Linked DNA regions of Homo sapiens. Each later gene encodes a partner of the first gene's protein in a complex. Each region holds a gene or a part of one and is shown in the gene's direction. Other genes may lie near its edges.

Region 1 (7,024 bases):
AAACCCAGAAAAGCATTACCATCTATTGATAAAGAACCACTGTTAACATTTTGGTGCATATCCTTTGAGTTTTTTTAATTATACATGTAACTATATCCTATTTTCCCTCTACTAAAATGGAATCTTAACATACTGCTTAATAGCCTACTTTTAAGCTATCTAAGCTATTCATTTTGTTTCCGTGTTTTTTTTTTTTTTTTTTTTTTTTTTGAGATGGAGTCTTGCTCTGTCACCCAGGCTGGAGAGCAGTGGTGCGATCTGGTATTATACCCAGGAGGCTTTTTGTTCCATGCATGGTATTTTATAATGTTAGTAAATACTTTTCCTTAATTTTATAGTAAGCAGAAAATTTTTATGGTTGGGGTGGATGCAAAAGTGATACATAATAGTTTAGAAGACAACCAATTTTGTTTTACCAGCTGTTTGGGCATTTTTAGTACCCCCTTCTTGATTTGAAGGGTTTAATCTTGACCTTTTTTTTTTTTTCTTCGAAATAGAGTCTCGCTCTGTCACTTAGGCTGGAGTGCAGTGGCACAATCTCAGTTCACTGCAACCTCCACCTCTTGGGTTCAAGCGATTCTCTTGCCTCCGCCTCCCAAGTAGCTGGGATTACAGGTGCCCACCACCATGCCCAGCTAATTTTTGTATTTTTAGTAGAGATGGTGTTTTTCCATGTTGGCCATGCTGGTCTCGAACTTCTGACCTCAGGTAATCCGCCCACTGCAGCCTCCCAAAGTGCTGGGATTACAGATGTGAGCCACCATGCCTGGTCCTGTTTCCGTGTTATTTTAAGACCATCTTGGTCATGGTTTACTAAATGCTTTGTCCATCTGAATCACTGTTGCATAGTTGATGTTGATACCTGTGAGGCAGGCCTTCTGCTCAGGGCAACCTTGAGTATTTGTTGACAGTGGGAGTGGTTTTGTAGAACAAACAATGGCTTATTTGGAGAGCTCCACACAATAGATTATCCTCTCCTGTGGGAGCCAGAAAGAGATGAGCTCACAGATAATGGGTTTCTTCCTTCCTGGTAGTTACGAATAAATAATAGTGTGACAGACTCACCCTCTAGTGGTTGTTGGTAGTACTGAAACAGGAAGAATTGTCTCCTGGTTTGATTTTTCTTACTTTCAATTGCTTTCTCTGTTCCTAGTGGCTGGGCTTCCCAAATGTGATGTTGGTGAATAGGCTTCATTTTGAAAGAGCTGGAGGTATTGTCTTTAGAAATTGGAGGATGGAATCTTACCTCTTAACACATTTGTTGAGTAGCAGACATGACCTTGGAATGACTGTGAAAATTACTTTTCAAGTTTATACCTCATCAGTACCAAAGCCAGATCCTCCTGTGATGTAGCAGGAAGCCCTTTATTAGTTTTTCTCTATCAATCCATCTTTTATAATTTCCAAAATAGGATAAGGAGAAGCTTAAATATGAAATGTATTTAAAGGTCTTATCCTACCAGTTGTTTCCTGTGTGTAAATGCCTAATTTCCTGTTTGGTTAAGGAACTGTTCTCAGACTTCTGTGGCATTGAGTCAGTTGCTTTGGTTAATTCTGTTCTCTGAGAGTTTATCCTGATCTCTACCTAGACAAGTTAATAACTGTCAGATATCATTCAAATAAATGATAAGTAGTAAGGATTTGGTTCTTTCTTTTTGATTAGCCTTTCCTGAATGCTTGTTACTTTCTAAGCCTGCAGACTTCAAAGAAAAAAATGTAGTTTTAATTAAATTGCAGGTGTTTTTAAAATTATTACCTTTTATTTTTACTAACCCATTGAGGAAAATTGATCAGTATATTATTCATGCAAAGGAGAGATAAGATGAGCACACTGAAACTCCAGTTAATCCTCCTTTGCAGATGAGGGTAATGGGAATGTCCAGGAAGCTAGCCATAATGACTTGATGTATTCTCTTGGTTCTTCCAAAACTTCTCAGGAGCTATGAAGACATGATTGGTGAGGAGGTGCCATCGGATCAATACTACTGGGCTCCTTTGGCCCAGCATGAGCGAGGAAGTTTAGCAAGCTTGGATAGCCTGCGCAAAGGAGGGCCTCCACCTCCTAATTGGAGACAGCCAGAGCTGCCAGAGGTGATCGCCATGCTTGGATTCCGCTTGGATGCTGTCAAGTCCAATGCAGCTGCATACCTGCAACACTTATGCTACCGCAATGACAAGGTGAAGACTGACGTGCGGAAGCTCAAGGGCATCCCAGTACTGGTGGGATTGTTAGACCATCCCAAAAAGGAAGTGCACCTTGGAGCCTGTGGAGCTCTCAAGAATATCTCTTTTGGACGTGACCAGGATAACAAGATTGCCATAAAAAACTGTGATGGTGTGCCTGCCCTTGTGCGATTGCTTCGAAAGGCTCGTGATATGGACCTTACTGAAGTTATTACCGGTGAGTTCTAGGCCTAAGGAAAATTGCTAAGTCAGTGTTACTCTCTAGTGATGTTGAGAACTAGAGGGATTTCCAGACCTTTTACTTTTGATGAAAGGTTGTGAACTGGTGGCTGTGGGTCAAATCCATCTCACAGATTTGTTTGGATCACACAGCATTATTGAAATTTTAAAGAACTGGTTGCTGATGTTTAAAATTCAGAAGATTTCACTTAAAATTCCAGATTCTTGGCTTCTATTAAAAACGTGGAAGAGTTGTTAACAATGGATCTCTTTTCTTCCTTAGCAGTATTTGGTCTGAACTGATTGGAGCATGTGCTCTCTAATTTACACTAATCTCCAACACATTCTATTATCTGACCAACTACAGCTGTTTAGGAAGTTGTTTCCCAAACATGGAGCTGTCAACTGCTATTTTTTCACATGCTTGTAATTTCTTTTAATTATCTTCCTCTCTTGACTCACCGGCTTGACCCATATAGACATTTAAGCTTGTGGTTCTTGCTTTATTTAGAGCAGTAGTTTTTCAGATTGTGGGTTGTGATCTATTTGTGTGATCCGTTAGTGAATAAAACAAAATTTTGTGGAGCATAATCAGCATTCCAAGGGAAAGGAATAAAGAAAAAGTAGTATAGACCATTGTTTCTCAGTTGTGGGCCATTTTGCCTGCCCTGCCCTGAGGACATTTGGACATTTGCAGTGTTGGAGATATTTTTGGTTGTTATAACTTGGAACAGGGGAGAGGGAGTGCTACTGGCATCTAGTGAGTAAAGGCCAGGGGTACTGGTAAACATCCAACAATAGACAAGACAGCTCCTCATAACAAAGAATCATCTGGCCGAAAATGTCAGTGGTGCTGAGGTTGAAAAACTCTGGTATAGACAGATCGGAGAGCATTGAGCATTGCTTATAGTTTTGTTTGTTTTTTTTGAGATGGAGTCTCGCTCTGTCACCCAGGCTGGAGTGCAGTGGCACAATCTCAGCTCACCGCAAGCTCCGCCTCATGGGTTCACGCCATTCTCCTGCCTCAGCCTCCCAAGTAGCTGGGACTACAGGTGCCCGCCACCACGCCCGGCTAATTTTTTGTATTTTTAGTGTTAGCCAGGATGGTCTTGATCTCCCAACCTTGTGATCCGCCCGCCTTGGCCTCCCAAATTGCTGGGATTACAGGCGTGAGCCACCACACCCAGCCTGAGCGTTGCTTATAGTTAAACATTGTTTGTTTCATGATCTGTATGTTTATTTTGAGCTATAATGTAGAATATGTTTCTTGGTGAGGGTCGCAAACAAAGCTTGAATATTACTATAAGGTATTTGGTCACTGGGGAAGACTGAGAAGTGATACGATAGGGGGATTCTCTTTGACGTTCTTCAGACATATTGTCTTGAATGCTCAAGAGCCATCTGATGAATTGTCTCTTCCAGGAACCCTGTGGAATCTTTCATCCCATGACTCAATCAAAATGGAGATTGTGGACCATGCACTGCATGCCTTGACAGATGAAGTGATCATTCCTCATTCTGGTTGGGAGCGGGAACCTAATGAAGACTGTAAGCCACGCCACATTGAGTGGGAATCGGTGCTCACCAACACAGCTGGCTGCCTTAGGTAACAGTAGGGACTTTGAGAATATGAAGATGAATTTTTGAGGACTGACTTAAATTTCCTAAAAAAAAAAAAAAATTAAAATTCTTTAGCCTATTCTTTAGCCTCCATTCCTATCTGTATTGCATACTGTAACTCCAACCTTTCTATCTTTGTTGCTATTCTCTCATGTATACCACATGTACCTATATCAGTTTTCTTGCTGTTCCCCACACATCCTCTTCACTTTTATGCCTCTTTGACTTTGTTCATCTACTTTGGTAAGCTTTTGTTCAGCATCTACCACATGTAAGGTGGTCTAGTCCTGGACTTGTGTGTGTCTATGTCCTTGCCCTAGTTATTTGTATTTCAAGTCAGGCTGTGATAAATTCAGCAAAAGGGGTACAGAGTACTAGGAGGTTAGGGCATGGGTGAGGAAGGTCTGTTCTTTCTGTGATGCCTTTCTCTTCTTATTTATCTTTTTGTGGTTAAACTCAAGTGCCTTTATTTTATTAAAGTTTTCCTGAATTCTTTTTATATCCTATAAATGCTGCTATATAATCTTTCTCTCTTTGGAATACACCTCTGTGTGCTGTGTTCCATTCTACATATGTATTATATACTTCCATACGAGAAGTATATATTCCATCTTGAATTACTGCATCTGGTACATATCATTAATCCCTACCCCACAGTGATATAAACATTCAGAAGGCAGGGACTGTTAATCAACTTTCTCTCAACTGCAGTACCTTGCTTATAATAGGTATTTACTATTACAGTGAGTAGAAAAACATATTCAGGAATCTTGTAGGTGTTGAGGGATATTTAAGGGAGGATTTCTGGATTTGAGTCATCTTGAAGCTTCTGGTTTCCCCTCAGGAATGTAAGCTCAGAGAGGAGTGAAGCTCGCCGGAAACTTCGGGAATGTGATGGTTTAGTTGATGCCCTCATTTTCATTGTTCAGGCTGAGATTGGGCAGAAGGATTCAGACAGCAAGGTAAGTGCTGTCTTACCTTTAATGGCTGAGTGAATTTCATTCACCACAACTATGAAGTATCTGTAGGTCAGAGACCTATCATCTCAGGCTTTCAAGTAACATTAAATATTTATACTGTCCCCTACCCCTTATTTTTGAGACAGAGTCTTGCTCTGTTGCCCAGCCTGGGGTGCAGTGATGTGATCTCAGCTCACTGCAACTTCTGCTTCCTGGGTTCAAGCGATTCTCATGCCTCAGCCTCCCAAGTAGATGGGATTACAGGCGTGTGCCACCACACCCAGCTAATTTTTGTATTTTTAGTAGAGACGGGGTTTCACCATGTTGGCCTGGCTGGTCTCAAACTCTTGACCTCACGTGATCCCCCTGCCTCAGCCTCCCAAAGCATTGGGATTACAGGCGTGAGCCACTGTGCCCAGCCAAGCCCTTACTCCTTAAAGTGGGTATTCAACTTAAAACATGTTTTTTGTTTGTTTGTTTGTTTTTTTGAGATGGAGTCTGGCTCTGTCCCAGGCTGGAGTACAGTCCCGTGATCTCGGCTCATTGCGACCTCTCCCTCCTGGGTTCAAGCAATTCTCTGCCTCATCTCCTGAGTAGCTGGGATTACAGGCACCTGCCACCATGCCCGGCTAATTTTTGTGTTTTAGTAGAGACAGGGTTTCACCAGGTTGGTCAGGCTGGTTTTGAACTCCCGACCTCAGGTGATCCACCCGCCTCGGCCTCCCAAAGTGCTGGGATTACAGGTGTGAGCCACTGTGCCCGGCTTTTTTTTCTTTTTTTTTTAAATCTGTCACCTATGTATTTTAAAGCTGCTTAGCTGTCTTCCAAAATTGTACATTGTCTAAGTAGTAAGAATGATGATCCAATTTCAGTCACACACCAAATAGTGGCAGAAGCCAATAAGTCCATAGTTGGACCTTCCATTAGCCTGAGGCTACCGGGATTTCAAGAAGCCTGGAGCACTTAAGAGGCATCCTGAGAAGTTATGGATTGGGTTATGCATTTGAAGATCAACATTTTAATACCTGAGTCATGGAAACCTGTACTTGTGGAGAAATCACAATAGACATTCTTTTTTCTCATTGGCCCTTTTATGTCCCTAAGCTTGTAGAGAACTGTGTTTGCCTTCTTCGGAACTTATCATATCAAGTTCACCGGGAGATCCCACAGGCAGAGCGTTACCAAGAGGCAGCTCCCAATGTTGCCAACAATACTGGGCCACATGCTGCCAGTTGCTTTGGGGCCAAGAAGGGCAAAGGTGAGTCTTGGTTCCTGTTTCTTAGTCTTTAATGTGGGATAGGGAAAGGAAGGAACACTTTAGCTTAAGGTACAAAATACTTGGCAACAGTATGGGAGTCTGCCTGGTTATGGATGTCTTTTTGGTTTGCTGCTTTCCCTGTGTTGTGTGCTTCATTCAAGGTGTGGTGATGGGATGGTGGTTGTGATGTGTTGGTGGTGGTGGTGGTGGTGGTGGTGGTGGTATCAATGAGTGGGGCAGTGGAAAATGAGAACTCAACTAATCTGGGACCTTCTTCCCCATACGTCCTTTGCATTTTCTGTGTTTTTCTTTTCTTCTCTGTGCTTCCCTGCTTATTTGCCCATGATTCTGCTGACATCTTTCTCCTGCATTTTTCTTATTTCATTTCTCTTCTCTGCTTTCTACCTTGGGTGATGCACTGGAAGATGAGTGGTTCTCCAGAGGTGAGTGGAGTCTTTTAAGGTGCTTATCTACTTCTAATTTGCATGTTTTGATTTTAGCTTCCCTAGTATGTCCTTGCCTAACCTTTCCCTGTCTATGCATGTAGGAAAGTTCAGTTGAGGAAGACACTGAAACAAGTTTAGCTCTTTGGAGCTAATAGCTCACGGCATGCTGTTTCTGGGCAGCAGTCCCCATTATCAGAACTCAGGACAATAGCATCAACAGTGGTCATCCTCATCTTACCTATCTGCTGCCTGTTTTCTATCCTTGTTTCTGAATAGTCCCCTGCTGGAACAAGTTGCCCTCACCTGCCCCTTTTCCCCTCGTGGTGCATCTGTGATCA
Region 2 (7,397 bases), on another chromosome or scaffold:
AGTTTCACTCTTGTTGCCCAGGATGGAGTGCGATGGCTTGATTTCGGCTCACTGCAACCTCCACCTCAGCGATTCTCCTGCCTCAGCCTCCCAAGTAGCTGGCCATGTGTCACCACACCTGGCTAATTTTTTTGTATTTTTAGTAGAGACAGGGGTTCACCATGTTGGCCAGGCTGGTCTCAAACTCCTGACCTCAGGTGATCCACCTGCCTCAGCCTCCCAAAGTGCTGGGATTATAGACATGAGCCACTGCGCCCAGCCCTGTTTTATATTATGTTAATAGCTGCTATGTCTATGGCAGAGTTGAACCTACTTCACCACTACTGGAAGCAGAACTCTTCCCTGATTATTTTAAAAACCCTTCTCAAGAGTGTTCTGAGAAATTAAACTTTTCTTGTGACTATGAAGAAACGGGAATTGAATTCAGAAGTATTGGCTGGAAAATTATTTTTGTGTTAGTGAATATAGAAAGGTCTTGACTCAGGGGACATATAAGCATGAGCCATTTTATTCTTCCTTAATCTGAGCCTTCAACCAAACCATTTCAATCCCTCAGTTACAACTGGGGCTCATCATTACCCAGTCACGTCAGTCAGTAAAACCAGCCCAGCTTAAAACTTCGATGTCAGCCTTGATGGAAATCTAATCTCTTCCATCCACCCTGGGTGGGCTGGACTCCCAGGTGGGTGTGTGGGCAGGGGAGGCTTGGGCAGCCCCTCCTCACCTTCCAACCCAGCACTGAGATCCTAAGGCATGGTGGTGCTTTGCTGTTGGGACACCTCTGCTCCCTCCCTCTTCCAGGCTCTGCCTCCCCTAGCGTTGGTGACAGAAAGAGAGACTAAGGGAAAGCCTAAGGCCTGTCCTCTGTAACAGGCCACTCTCCCAGCCTTTCACTGCGGCTGGCTCACCTCTGCAGAGGAGGCATCGAATGCCAGCCTTCTCACCTCCCCAGCCAGGAAAGAAGGCTTGAGCCTAGCGCTTTACTTCTCTGGTGTTTACTTGATCCATATGGAAAATGCCAAAGGTAGGCAGAGTCAGGTGCATTTGTCATCTTCCCTCAGTCCCACTGTCCACCTAAGTTCCCCTCCTTTCAGCTGGGCATGAGGCCTGGCCAGCCAGACCACTGTCCACGCAGAAATCCAAGCCGGGTGGGGATGCCTCATGATGCAATCATCATTACTAAAAAAAGAACAGTGAGAACTGGAGGTGGCTGGGGGCACTCCTCAAAAACATGAGAAGGTTGACCCTGGGTAGGTAATTGTAGCTCATACCTCCCTTGCAATCAAGTAACTTTTATCTCATGAGCAATCTCATTTCTTCACTTGTCAGCTTACAGGGAGCTGGGAGCTGCCACCATGTGGCTATAAAGTATTACTGTACTTCCAAGGACACAGAAAGGAGCGCTAGACTATTGTCACTATGATCACATGCTCAGAATAGAAAGGGAGTGGGGACATCTTCAAGCTCAGGCTCACCCAAGATGTGCAGCAGGTGATGCCCAGAATCACCAGCTGAGTTCCAGGCCCCGTGGCCTACCCAAGTAGGGTTGCCGTGTGGGGAACTGGCATTCTGCTTAGTTATTTTAAACGCTTGAGAATGTTGAAAACTTGTTTGTTTCTAATATATTAAAATACCAGTTCCTATGGTGTTTTTTGTTTTGTTTTGTTTTGAGATGGAGTTTCACTCTTGTTGCCTAAGGCTGGAGTGCAATGATGTGATCTCAGCTCACTGCAACCTCCGCCTCCCGGGTTCAAGGGATTCCCCTGCCTCAGCCTCCGGAGTAGTTGGGATTACAGGTGTGTGCCACCATGCCCGGCTAATTTTAAAATACCAATTTCTTTTAAACTTAAAACGAATGTGAAAGTGGAATCCTTCACTGTTGTCCCCCAGCTCCGCCCAGACTAGAACATTGTGAGGCTAATGCCTTTCTAGCAACAATATTTTAGTCCCCAGCGCTATTCTAGCAGCAGGGAGTGCTCAACTGACGTGGTTTTTTCACATATATTTAACATGGTTTAGCTCACCTGACTTATATATTCTAAATTAGTGATTCTAACTTAATCAGTTTTTTAAAAATAGGCTATCATTATAGAAATATCCACTTTGAAAATAGGCACAAGGTATTCAGTTTCTCTTTATGCACAGGAAATATCTATAGACTTTAAAGTTGTATTTATTATTCTTTTCAATAATAAGCTATTAATTTCAATAAAAATAAACTATTCAAATTAAAATATTCAGCAGCATCTCAGAGCTATGAATGTTCAGTTAAGCAAAGAAAGTTTTTTTTTTTTAATTGGGAGATTTTTATTTTATATTTTATTTTTGATGAGTTCTTTTTTATTTTTATTTTTTAATTTTATTTTTCCATAAGTTATTGGGGTACAGGTGGCATATTGGTTACATGAGTAAGTTTTTCAGTGGAGATTTGTGAGATCCTGGTGCACCCATCACCCAAGCAGTATACACTGCACCATATTTGTTGTCTTTTATCCCTCACCCTCTTCCCACTCTTCCCCCCAATTCCCCAAAGTCCATTGTATGATTCTTATGCCTTTGTGTCCTCATAGCTTAGCTCCCACAAATCAGTGAGAATATACAATGTTTGATTTTCCATTCCTGAGTTACTTCATTTAGAATAATAGTCTCCAATCTCATCCAGGTCACTGCAAATGCTGTTAATTCATTCCTTTTTATGGCTGAGTAGTATTCCATCATATATATCTGTATATACACATATATATACATATATATGTGTATATATATGTGTATGTATATATATACATATATGTGTGTATATATGTGTATGTATATATATACATATATGTGTGTATATATGTATGTATATATGTGTATATATGTACATACACATATATACACATATATGTGTATATATACATATATGCGTGTATATATGTACATACACATATATACACACATATATGTGTATATATGTACATACACATATATACACGCATATATGTGTATATATACATATAGATACGCATATACACATTTTCTTTATCCACTAGTTGATTGATGGGCATTTGGGTTGGTTCCACGATTTTGCAATTGTGAATTTTGCTGCTATAAACGTGCATGTGCAAGTATCTTTTTCGAATAATGACTTCTTTTCCTCTGGGAAGATACCCAGTAGTGGGATTGCTGGATCAAATGGTAGTTCTACTTTTGTTCTTTAAGGAATCTCCACACTGTTTTCCATAGCAGCTGTACTATGTTATATTCCCCCCAGCAGTGTAGAAGTGTTCCCTGATTGTCACATCCACACCAACGTCTACTGTTTTTTGATTTTTTGATTATGGTCATTCTTGCAGGAGTAAGGTGGTATCGCACTGCGGTTTTGATTTGCGTTTTGCTGATCATTGGTGATGTTGAGCATTTTTTCATATGCTTGTTGACCATTTGTATATCTTCTTTTGAGAATTGTCTATTCATGTCCTTATCCCACTTTTTGATGGGATTGTTTTTTTCTTACTGATTTGTTGGAGTTCATTGTGGATTCTGGATATTAATCCTTTGTCAGATGTATAGATTGTGAAGATTTTCTCCCACTCTGTGGGTTGTCTGTTTACTCTGCTGACTGTTCCTTTTGCAGTGCAAAAGCTCTTTAGTTTAATTAGGTCCCAGCTATTTATCTTTGATTTTATTGCATTTGCTTTTTGGTTCTTGGTCATGAAATCCTTGCCTAAGCCAATATCTAGAACAAGCAAAGAAAGTTTACCTTTTATTTTATCTGTTTACTACTTTAAACAAGGTAATGTGATAAAAAGGTCATGTTAAGGTAATCAGGGTTAATGTATCACAGATTGTGTTTTAAAACTTGCTTACTGCAACCTTAAGTATTGGTATAATATAATCTCAAATTGTCTCTTTCAGAATTCTCATGCAAAGACTCCCGGGTTGCCACAGAGATCCCTGTCCATAGGGAGGCTCTTTCCCATCTCTCCTCCCTCCCACTTTAATTCCAAACTCAAAAAGGCAGATTAATCTAAGCTTAAAAAAGGTTTTAGTAGAAATAATTTGAAAACCCCAGAGCCCTGGGATATTGTTGGAATAACGATTTTTAGTGCTTTGGAAAGTAAAAGTTGATTTTTCTTTTCTTTCATTCTTCCCCATCCCTTCCCCCTTAATAAAGTTATCATTCTTGTCATTTTCTAGTTTTTTTTGTTTGGTTCAAGAGGATAAGATTATAGAAAATAGTCACTAACATATCCTGCTATAGAAAGAGATGATTGGACCTTCTATTTGGAAACCAGAACAAACAAGGAAACAAAGAAACAAATAATTCTGCTTTCCGATAGGTGCTGGTTTTACTTCCGCTGGCTGAGCTGTTGTTCCTGAGGTCAGACCCCAGCCAGTCTTTTGTGTACGTGCAGGACCATGGTGGCTTTAGTTTCTACCCCACCCTTCCTAGGAACTCTACTTGTGGCAAACGTATGTTCAAGCTTACAAGTCAGCCCACCCCACTCTGATAAATGCAAGAAAAGCTGAAAAGGGAGGAGCAAGATGGGATGAAAGCATCTGGGCCAAAGTGACCTGAAAACCTTTAGAGAAGAAGCTGCTGGCTGAGAAGGAGGTGTGTGGCTCCGGTGAGACCACCAGCTTGGAGGACTGGTCATCAGCTGCACGTTCTGGGTCTGTCTTGGGTATTCCCATATGGCCATGAGATCCGGGAGGCACCCCTCGCTGCTGCTGCTTCTAGTGCTGCTGCTGTGGCTGCTGCAGGTAAGCTGAGCCTGCAGCCTAGTGCTCAGGTGCAGGGAACTGAAAGCAAAGCACAAGCTGGCCCTGCCCCTTCTAGGCTAAGGGAGGGGAGAGGGACTGAGTGTGACCTGCTGGGACCCAGGGCTGGCTGTCTTGAGAATGGCTTAGGTAGCAGGGGCTCTGGATTTATATAAAGGGAAGTTAAGGGTCCCAGTCTGTTTGGGGCAACAGTGGGAGCAGGCTAAGGGACCTGTTTAAAACTAATTTATATAGTTCACACTATTTTTAGTGAGATTACATCAACACACACGTGTTTTCTTTCTTTGTTTCTTTCTCCTTTTGTTGAGACAGGGTCTGGCTTCATCATCCAGGCTGGAGTGCAGTGGCATGATCAAGGCTCACTGCAGCTTTAACCTCCCAGGCTCAGGTGATCCTTCCACCTCAGCCTCAAGAGTAGCTGGGACTACAGTAACTTACCACCACGCTGGCTAATTTCTGTATTTTTTATAGAGATGGATTTTCACCATGTTGCCCAGGCTGGTCTCGAACTCCTAAGCTCAAGTGATTTATTCGCCTTGCCCTTCCGAAGTGTTGGGTTTACAGGCATGAGCCACCTCACCCAGCCAACACACACAATTTTTTTTTTTTTTTGAGACAGGGTCTCGTCATCCAGGCTACAGTGCGTGGTGACATCTCAGTGCACCGCAACCTCCTCCTACTGGGTTCAAGCAACCTCCTGGCTCAGCCTCCCGAGTACTGGGACTACAGGTGCACGCCACCATGCCCGGCTAGTTTTTGTATTTTTATTAGAGACAGGGTTTCACCATGTTGGCCAGGCTGGTCTCAAACTCCTGACCTCAAGTGATCTGCCTGCCTCAGCCTCCCAAAGTGTTAGGATGACAGGCTTGAGACACTGCGCCCTGCCAAGTTTTATAATGATACTTCTGTTCACACTTTACATAAGATTGAGGAAATCTCAGTTGTCTGGATCCAAGGCAATTTGAGCAAACCCATGGGGATGGAATGGCTAAATCCATTGCCCCCAACTGCCACTGTTTAAATGGGAATACAAACTAGTGGAGTCAGGATTCGAAACACATGGGCTTGCTCTGTTTGTACTTAGAGTGGACAGAGGTAATGTTGCATGCGCTTGTTGGTTATGATCTGCTTCGTTGGCTTTCTGTAGGTAGGGAGAGGGAATCATTTCTTCCTTTGAATACCAGCTGAGGGTGGGAAGCAGCCCAGTGGCTGGTAACTGTGAGCTCTGGACTGGGCTGCTTGGCGTCCTGACCTAGGCTCCTTCACAGCCCGCTGGGGACCTAGGCCAGCTTAACTTTGTTCCTTACCTTGGATCAAGTTGAACTTACCTAGGGAGCTTCAAGGGATCTCAGTGCCTGGGTTTTGCCCCCAAAGGTTCAGGTTGAGCTGACCTGGGAGTGCACTGGGTGTCAGTGCACTGGTTTTAACATAACCTTGTTAAGCCTATTTTTCTTCACCTGAAAATGGAGCTAGTAACTGAATTTATCTGAGCCAGTGGTTGTACCAGTGAATGAGGAAATGCGTAAAAGCCCTTGGTACTGCGAAAGTTGTCAGAATCAGAATGGAGTTCCTTATGTTAAAACACACACACACACACACACACACACAGGCACAAAGCCTGATATATAGACACAAAGAAGGTTATGAAAAGGGGGTTCTCACATTTGTAGGCTTGATAACTAAAACTATCACAAAAGCTCTGCAAAAATAACAACTTTGCACAAAGGCCGTTAAAACCTTACACAAAAAATACTTTTTCGAAGAAATCTTCCCAGCAACTTTTTGTGCAAACTCAGACCAGTGTCACCCTTCTTATTGATCTTTGTAGCCAAAGATAATTATTTCAAAACAATGATATAATCCTTCTCATTTTTTCCTTTGAAAACCTTTATCTCCCTTTACCTCCCTGACTCTGCACATCGTTTACCATGGCACACATATTCCCATGGATATGTCCTTGCCCAGACAAACGTCATCTTCTCTTAGAGAGCCTCTGTCTACTATTAGGTTCACAGTTCAGTAACGACCCAGCCGTTTTTCTAATCACAGTGAAAATGGTTGGCAATATTCATTCAGAGCTCATGCTAAAACTATTTACTGGATACCTGCTTTGGGCCAGGCACTGGGAATACACCAATAAACATAATAGGGGGAAAACCCTGTCTGAAAGTGGATAACTTGTTTGGTACCAGTTGCTTGAGGTTTGGAGAATTTTCTTGGTCACATTTTGCCATATCAAGAGTTACGAGTTTCCTTAGTCAGACAGCACATTAATTTGATCTCCAATACTTCACAGAAGTCCTTTTTAGTAGCCCATGTTTGCATGGATTTGAATATAGTCCAGATCAAATCCTGTCCCCATCCTTCCCTCACTCCTGCTCCTACCCACAATGAGTCTGATCAGGAAACAGACCTGAATTCTCTTCCCTCTGGCGTATTAGTGCAGTGCCAAAGCAAATTAATTGACTTCTGAGGGTGGTTGGGTGGGGGTGGGCAGTGGGAATGGGTCTGTGGATTGTACTTCAGTGATTGATGACAGCAGCTTTATGTAGATTCCAGGGAATCAAGACAGATGAAGAGAACATGATTCAATAGATGTAAGAAGTTTTTAGCAATCAGAATGCTGGACCTTT

The links.
Region 2: CTNND1 (region 1) and CDH26 share a complex: the UniProt entries of both Homo sapiens proteins name them as parts of the cadherin:catenin adhesion complex.

The regions. Positions count from the first base shown.
Region 1 is NC_000011.10:57,799,796-57,806,819, forward strand, and holds part of CTNND1 (catenin delta-1), read left to right. Parts: intron 1-1,937; coding exon 1,938-2,401; intron 2,402-3,825; coding exon 3,826-4,009; intron 4,010-4,867; coding exon 4,868-4,985; intron 4,986-6,086; coding exon 6,087-6,240; intron 6,241-6,665; coding exon 6,666-6,683; intron 6,684-7,024. UniProt on the Homo sapiens protein: Key regulator of cell-cell adhesion that associates with and regulates the cell adhesion properties of both C-, E- and N-cadherins, being critical for their surface stability.
Region 2 is NC_000020.11:59,954,050-59,961,446, forward strand, and holds the start of CDH26 (cadherin-like protein 26 isoform a precursor), read left to right. Parts: upstream 1-4,373; 5' UTR 4,374-4,677; coding exon 4,678-4,746; intron 4,747-7,397. UniProt on the Homo sapiens protein: Cadherins are calcium-dependent cell adhesion proteins. They preferentially interact with themselves in a homophilic manner in connecting cells; cadherins may thus contribute to the sorting of heterogeneous cell types.